2 linked regions of the Homo sapiens genome follow. The protein of the gene in region 1 purifies or fractionates together with the protein of each later gene. This does not show direct contact. Each region holds a gene or a part of one and is shown in the gene's direction. Other genes may lie near its edges. The genes, in order: URM1 and NSUN2.

Region 1 (3,817 bases):
ATATGTCAGTTGAGTTTGAATAGCAGATCTTATAAGACATAAGAGAGTCTGGCCTTGGTCTCTCCTGGGCTAGAACAGGCCCCTTGTCTGCCTCCCTGAATCACTCTTGAGGCTGGGCATGCACCTTCCCCCACTCCAGATGTGCTGACAGCAGAAATGCCAACCCCTCCCTTGAGGGCCAGTGAATTCAGCAGTGACAGGTCACTCTCTGAGCGAGACTGGTTCTCCCTTCATCCGCTTGTAAAGGGAAAAACAGCCTCGGCCTCTGAGCCTGGCACCACCAGGTTTGGCCAGTCTTGGTTGTTTGCCTAAGTCCCAGTGCCTTCAGTTCCCATCCCTCTTCTCTGACCCCCAACTCCTGAGCCCCTTGCCTGTCACCCTCCCCCACCCCAGCTGCTGCATGTGCCAACCCCCCACCCAGGAGAAAACGAGGCTCTTGGAAGGGAATAAATGGAGGCTCTGTGCAGGCTTGCAGCTGAAATGGCCCTGTGCGCGGCCACAGATGGGCCTCCTCTCCCCCTCCACATTTCTGCATCAACAAAGCGTGACCTTGTTTGGATGACAGTCGCCCCATGTTTTCCCCATGACAATGCTTGCCTTGCCTTTGCCTCCCAGCGGGCTGTCTCAGGACATCTCTGTTCCCTGAAATTGGGAAAGGGTGGTGGGGTGGAAGACATCTCATTCTTCAAAAGTCTGGTGAGGCCTTTTCAGTTAAGATCCACAAGAAGTCTGAGATGGGAATTGGGAGACCCAGAGGGAGAAGCAGCATGGGGCGCTGAAAGAGCCCTGGCGCTCATCTCAGAAGCCTCAGCTTCTGGACTTGGCTCCAATCATCTCTGCAGTCCCCGCCTTCCCTTGGCCAGGTGCTGGGACACAGAAATGAACCAAACTCTGCCCTCAAGAGGCTTTCTGACCTTTGGGAAGTCCTGTTTTTTTCTGACCAGTCTGCTGGTGCTAAGCAGGAATCAGTTAGACTGAAATTATAGTTCAGCCCCTGCCTCTCTAACCTTGGACAAGTTGGTTGCTTAACCTCTCTAGGCTTGAGTCTGCTTTTCTATCAAAGTGAGCAAATAATATCTACCTCCTTCCTTCTTCCCTGGGACTCCCTGAGGATGAAATGAGATGAGGAACATCTTATAAATGGTGAGGCGATGTGAACAGTTGTTCTTAGTTGATGCCAGGCCTCATGGACTCTCTCAGCCTCCAGCACTGTGATGTACCCACCAGGTCAGCAGCAGGTGGCATGGGCAGGAGCATTCAAACCATCATCTGGCCAGAGGAAACCCCTAGATGCACAGGGTCTCCAGAGTGCCTCACAGTGGCTCCCCAACATTTTTCCAGATGGAAAGACTGAAGCTTAAGATTGAGTCAAGGCCAGGCATGGTGGCCCACACCTATAATCCCAGCACTTTGGGAGGCTGAGGCAGAAGGATTGCTTGAGCCCAGGAGTTCAAGACCAGCCTGGGCAATAGAGTGAGACCTCACTATGTTATAAAATATTTTTAAATTATTATTAGTTTTGAGATAGGGTCTCACTGTGTCGCCCAGGCTGCAGTACAGTGGCATGACCTTGGCTAACTGCAGCCTCAACCTCCCAGGTTCAGGTGATCCTCCCACCTCAGCCTCCCAAGTAGCTGGGACTACAGGCGCACACCACCATGCCCACCTAATTTTTGTAGTTTTTGTAGACACAAGGTGTTGCCATGTTGCCCAGGCTGCTCTTGAACTCCTGGACTTAAGCAATCCTCCCTCGCCTCTCAGCCTCCCAAAGTGCTAGAGTTACAGGTGTGAGCCACTGTGTCTGGCCCCCAAAGTATTTTAATAACAAAGAAAAAAGAAGATTGAGTCACACATCTAAGGTCTCAACATAGGGAGAGGTGGAGCCTGGGCTTCACATCGGGGCCGGCAGCTCCAAAGGCTGTGTTCTGCACCTGTGTGGTAAGCTGCCTCTCTAGAAGGCAGAGGAGTAAAAACAAGAGTCGGCAAATTTGGGTACTTGATTTTTTTTTTTTCTTTTTAAATAATTAGAGACAGAGCCAGGCATGATGACTCACAACTCTAATCCCAGCACTTTGGGAGGATTGCTTGAGCCCAGGAGGTCAAGACCAGCCTGGACGACATAGGGAGACCCTGTCTCTACAAAAAATAAAAATAAAATTAGGCAGGTGTGGTGACACGTGCCTGTGGTCCCAGCTACCTGGGGGCTGATGTGGGAGGTTTGCTTGAACCCAGGAGGTTAAGGTTGTATCAAGCTGAGATCACGCTACTGCACTCCAGCCTGGGTGACAGAGTGAGACCTTGTCTCAAAAAATAAATAAATAGGCCAGGCACGGTGGCTCACGCCTGTAATCCCAACACTTCGGGAGGCTGAGGCAGGTGGATCACGAGGTCAGGAGTTCAAGACCAGCCTGGCCACAATGGTGAAACCCTGTCTCTATTAAAAAAAAATACAAAAATTAGCCAGGTGTGGTAGCACGTGCCTGTAATCTCAGCTACTCTGGAAGCTGAGGCAGAGGATTGCCTAAACCCAGGAGGCGAAGGTTGCAGTGAGCCAAGATCGCACTACTGCACTCCAGCCTGGGCGACAGAGCGAGACTCTGTCTCAATAAATAAATTTTTTTAAAAAGTAAAATAAAATAATAAAAATAGGCCAGGCACAGTGACTCATGCTTCTGATTTCAGCACTTTGGGAGGCCAAGGCAGGGAGATTACTTGAGCTCAAGAGTTCGAGACCAGTCTGAGCAACATGGCGAAATCCCATCTCTACAAAAAGTACAAAATTAGCTGAGTGTGATGCCATGCACCTGTAGTCCCAGCTGCTTGGGGGTCTGATGTGGGAGGATTGCTTAAGCCTAGGAGGTCAAGCCTGCAGTGAGCTGTGATTGTGCCACTGAACTCCATGCTGGGTGACAAAGCAAGACCTTGTCTCAAAAATAAATAGATAATAATTTCCCGGGTGCCTAATGATAATAATAATTACATAGAGACAGGGTCTTGCTATGTCACCAAGGCTCTATTTCACTGAGGCTCATCTCAAACTCCTGGCCTCAAGCAGTCATCTCGCCTTGGCCTCCCACAGTGCTAGGATTCCAGGTGTGAGCCACCACACCTAGCCGGTACTTGATTATTAGTAAAAATTATATCCTACCTTGCCACATTAGAAGTCATATTTAGGAATTGGTCACTGGGTCTGGGCAGAGTGGCTTGTGCCTGTAATCCCAGTGCTTTGGGAGGCTGAAGTGGGAGGATTGCTTTAGGCCAGGAGTTTGAGATCAGCCTGGGTAACATAACAAGACTCCATCTCTACAAAAAATTTAAAGATTAACCTGATATGGGCCAGGCGCGGTGGCTCATGACTGTAATTCCAGCACTTTGAGAGGCCAAGGTGGGCGGATCACCTGAGGTCAAGAGTTTGAGACTAGCCTGGCCAACATGGTGAAACCCTCTGTCTAAAAATACAAAACTTAGCCAGATGTGGTGGCTCATGTCTGTAGTCCCAGCTACTCGGGAGGCTGAGGCACGAGAATCACTTGAACCTGGGAGGCGGAGGTTGCTGTGAGCTGAGATCACACCACTGCACTGCAGCCTGGGCAACAGAGTGAGACTAAACAGAGTAAAATAAAATTAAATATAAACATAAATATTAATATAAAAAGTAGCCTGATATGGTGGCATGCACCTGTAGTCCTAGCTACTTGGGAGGTTGAACAGGAAGGTCTCTTGAACCCAGGAGTTCAAGGTTACAGCGAGCTATGATTGCACTGCTGCATTCCAGCATAGGCGACAGAGTAAGAACCTGTCTCTAAGAAAGAAAGGG
Region 2 (3,817 bases), on another chromosome or scaffold:
GAAATTGTCTGCGGTTTTTTTTTTTTTCCTAATTGTTGCTGATTTTTTTTTTTTCCTCAAGGGAAATATTAGTCGTCAAGAAGCTGTTAGCATGATCCCACCACTGCTCCTCAACGTGCGGCCTCATCATAAGGTAGCATATAGCAACTAGAAACGTGGGGGCGGGCAGCTTGTTACCAGTGTCATGCCTGTTTGTTTTGATGAAACCATTTTTTCTTAATATAATTAGTCCTTTTTTTCTTCTTTTCACTTTGGATAGAGAGTGATATGTACGTATCTTAGTTTCTTTTTTTTTTTTTTTTCTTTTTTGTCCTACTTAATTTTTATGGTTTAGAAAATTTTCTCCCCTTTAGTTTTACTGATTTGTTTACCATATGGATTGTCTTCAGTGATGGTGATTGGCTAAATTAGGTTGAAAATGATAGTGAACATGTATTGAGAGCTCATTGTATGGCAAGCATTACTCTGTGCTCTTTTTTCTTTTCTTTTTTTTTTTTTTGAGATGGAGTTTCACTCTTGTTGTCCAGGCTGGAGTGCAGTGGCGCGATCTTGGCTCACTGCAACCTCCGCCTCCTGAGTTCAGGCAATTCTCCTGCCTCAGTCTCCCAAGTAGCCGGGATTACAGGTGCGCACCACCACACCCTGCTAATTTTGTATTTTTAGTAGAGACGGGGTTTCTCCATGTTGGTCAGGCTGGTCTCGAACTCCCGACCTCAGGCGATCCGCCTGCCTTGGCCTTCCAAAGTGCTGGGATTACAGGTGTGAGCCACTGTGCCTGGCCTTGCTCTGTGTTTTTTAGGTGAATTAGTTGGCTTTATCATTCACACAACCCTCTAAGGGCAGATACTGTCACCATCTCCATTTTTCCAGATGAGGAAAAGGAAGCAAGGAGAAGTACTTGAACTGAGGTTACGGAGCTGTTAACTGGCTGAGCTGAGATTTGAGTCTAGGTAGCTCTGTTCCTTAGCATTATGTTTTCATGATTCTTACTTGTTCATCTCTATATTTAGTCTCTCTGGCTTACAGTTTCATTCTCCTCCCATCCTCTTTGGAGACTGTACCTATATCATTCTGTGATTTTGGGGCAGTGTAGAATCCCTAAAAGTAAATTATGTCATGCTATAGACTCTGTAAAGAAGTATATTTAGATCTTGGACTAGAAATTGAAAAACTAGAATTGCTTTAAATTAAATGTAGAATATTTGGTTTTTTAAAAACATGAAACAGTTTCTTGCTTTGTTAATAGATCTTAGATATGTGTGCAGCACCTGGCTCAAAGACCACACAGTTAATTGAAATGCTACATGCCGACATGAATGTCCCCTTTCCAGGTATGCATTGGACTTGTGTTCAAAATGGTAGGAATGCCACTTTGGCAGATTGTAGACAAGGAAAAGACTCTAACTTTGCCTGCTAATTTGGCTCTAAAGTCTCCTATGACAAGCAGTTGGGTTTTCCGTCTACCGGAAGTAGAACTGGACATCTTGCCTACCACCGTCAGTAGTACTCAAACAAACACACTCATACCATGGGGGAGCTTTATTTTAGAATTATGTGTGTTTTCTATAAAAACGAATGGCATTTCTTTTTTTTTTTTTTGAGATGGAGTCTCACTCTGTTGCCCAGGCTGGAGTGCAGTGGCGTGATGTTGGCTCACTGCAAGTTCCACCTCCTGGGTTCACGCCATTCTCCTGCCTCAGCCTCTCGAGTAGCTGGGACTACAGGTGCCCGCCACCATGCCCGGGTAATTTTTTGTATTTTTAGTAGAGACGGGGTTTCACCATGTTAGCCAGGATGGTCTCGATCTCCTGACCTCGTGATCCGCCCGCCTTGGCCTCCCAAAGTGCTGGGATTACAGGTGTGAGCCACCACGCCCGGCTGCAGATGGTGTTTCTTTATCAAGCCTACTTACAGAAGATAGATTTCACTGTTTGAATTTTTAGTAACAATTTCCCCTTTCCCCCACCTTTGTTCATTATTATTACTATTATTATTATTATTATTACTTACTGCCTTACATGAAGGGTAGTAGTGTGTAGTTAAAAGCTACCATCAGACTCCCTGGGTTCAAATCCTAATCGGCAAGTTACTTACAGTGTTAGACATCCCATGTGAAATGGGACGAATCAGTATGTAGCTTGCGAGGTGCTCAGGAAATGTTAGCTGTTATAGTGACACCACGCCCCTTTCTCTTAAGTGGAAACAAATACCCATCGTGATGTTTTAGAGTCAGCTTTCATCTCGTCCTATCTTTGTTCAGGCAAACTTCTCTAGTTCTGTTTTAATAGGCATATTTGTTAGGTCTGTTTTTTGAAATCCTCTTTTTTACATTGTTTAAAGATAATGCCTTGGCTAAAAAGCCTGCTTCACTTTTCCCTGTTTTTAGTTGTTTTCTCCACATTGGCAGTAAAGAGCCTTGGCGTCCCAGTAGCAGCAGGTTCTCCTTTTTGTATTGTGGATGTTTTGCATTTCATACTGTTGTGAAGAGTGGCTTTGATCATACATGTTGTTGGTATATTTGCCTTTTTGCTGGGGGTGTGAGAAGAACCAGAGATGAGCAGAGGTACACCCAGTAGACTTCCCAGCCTGCAGAGCCTCCCGGGAAGAGCTTCCGTGTTCAGGTGCTTGGGGCCCCACCCTAGGAGCCTGACTCACAGTCAGAGCAGGGTCCCGGCTTGTGTTCAGGATTTTGAAACATTTGTAAGGTGATTTTGTTGTTTCTACACCTTTCTCCTCATCTTTTTTTTTTGTAGTTAATCGTTACTAATAACAGAAAAGACATTTTTGGCATGGTAATTGGCACAAAGTGAATAATTGTTGAATAGATGACTTTTGAGGCTTTCAAAATTCGAGTGTCCATAAAATCCATCCAGAGCCACCTGGTTCCTTTTTTTGAACCACTTAACGTAATTCTGGAAAACCTTGACTGTGGGTCTTAAGTTTGGTGGATTGCTGCTTCTCACTGGCTGACCTTTGGAGGTCGCATATTTCAGGATGTGATTCCACTTAGGCTCCATTTCACCTGACACTGCAATTCTGTGCCTTCAGAGGGATTTGTTATTGCGAATGATGTGGACAACAAGCGCTGCTACCTGCTCGTCCATCAAGCCAAGAGGCTGAGCAGCCCCTGCATCATGGTGGTCAACCATGATGCCTCCAGCATACCCAGGCTCCAGATAGATGTGGACGGCAGGAAAGAGATCCTCTTCTATGATCGAATTTTATGTGATGTCCCTTGCAGGTATTTATCTTATTGGCCAAAAAGCCCAAATCCACTAAAGAAATCAAGTCAAATAGAGACTAAAATGAAGTTGTGCATGAATATGACACAATTGTACATAAGTCTTGGGGTGCGGAGAAAGATAGCGTGAGCCTAAACCAAAAGATGGACACGTAGATACGTCTTAATGAGAAGCAGCACAGCAGATGCTGGATAAAGAACAGAAAGGGGTGGTTGCAATAGCCTGCAGAAAGATAAAGAGAAAACAAAACAAAACAGAGAAAATACGTAAGAGGAAAATAGAATCGTAGACTCTTATTGTGGTGTGTTTTAGGATGTTATTGCTTGGAACAATTTGTGCACCCCAACTATTTTGTATTAGTTCTTCCAGTGAGTACAGTATATAAAAAACTTTGTCATAAAATAATACGTAATCACATTGGATTTTATGTTATTTAGTTGAATGAAAGAAATTTCGGAGTTCAAGCCCTTAAGAAATTCATTTTGCTTGTGTTTTTATACCTTTCTTGAGATAATACATCAACATTTTAGATATTTAGAGTTTAGATATAAAATAATACTCATGGTATAACTGAG

The links.
Region 2: the proteins of URM1 (region 1) and NSUN2 purify together in Homo sapiens (co-immunoprecipitation; one study listed by IntAct). This does not show direct contact.

Annotation. Positions count from the first base shown.
Region 1 is NC_000009.12:128,374,057-128,377,873, forward strand, and holds part of URM1 (ubiquitin-related modifier 1), read left to right. Parts: intron 1-3,817. UniProt on the Homo sapiens protein: Acts as a sulfur carrier required for 2-thiolation of mcm(5)S(2)U at tRNA wobble positions of cytosolic tRNA(Lys), tRNA(Glu) and tRNA(Gln). Serves as sulfur donor in tRNA 2-thiolation reaction by being thiocarboxylated (-COSH) at its C-terminus by MOCS3.
Region 2 is NC_000005.10:6,619,530-6,623,346, reverse strand, and holds part of NSUN2 (RNA cytosine C(5)-methyltransferase NSUN2), read left to right. Parts: intron 1-61; coding exon 62-133; intron 134-1,246; coding exon 1,247-1,331; intron 1,332-3,048; coding exon 3,049-3,241; intron 3,242-3,817. UniProt on the Homo sapiens protein: RNA cytosine C(5)-methyltransferase that methylates cytosine to 5-methylcytosine (m5C) in various RNAs, such as tRNAs, mRNAs and some long non-coding RNAs (lncRNAs).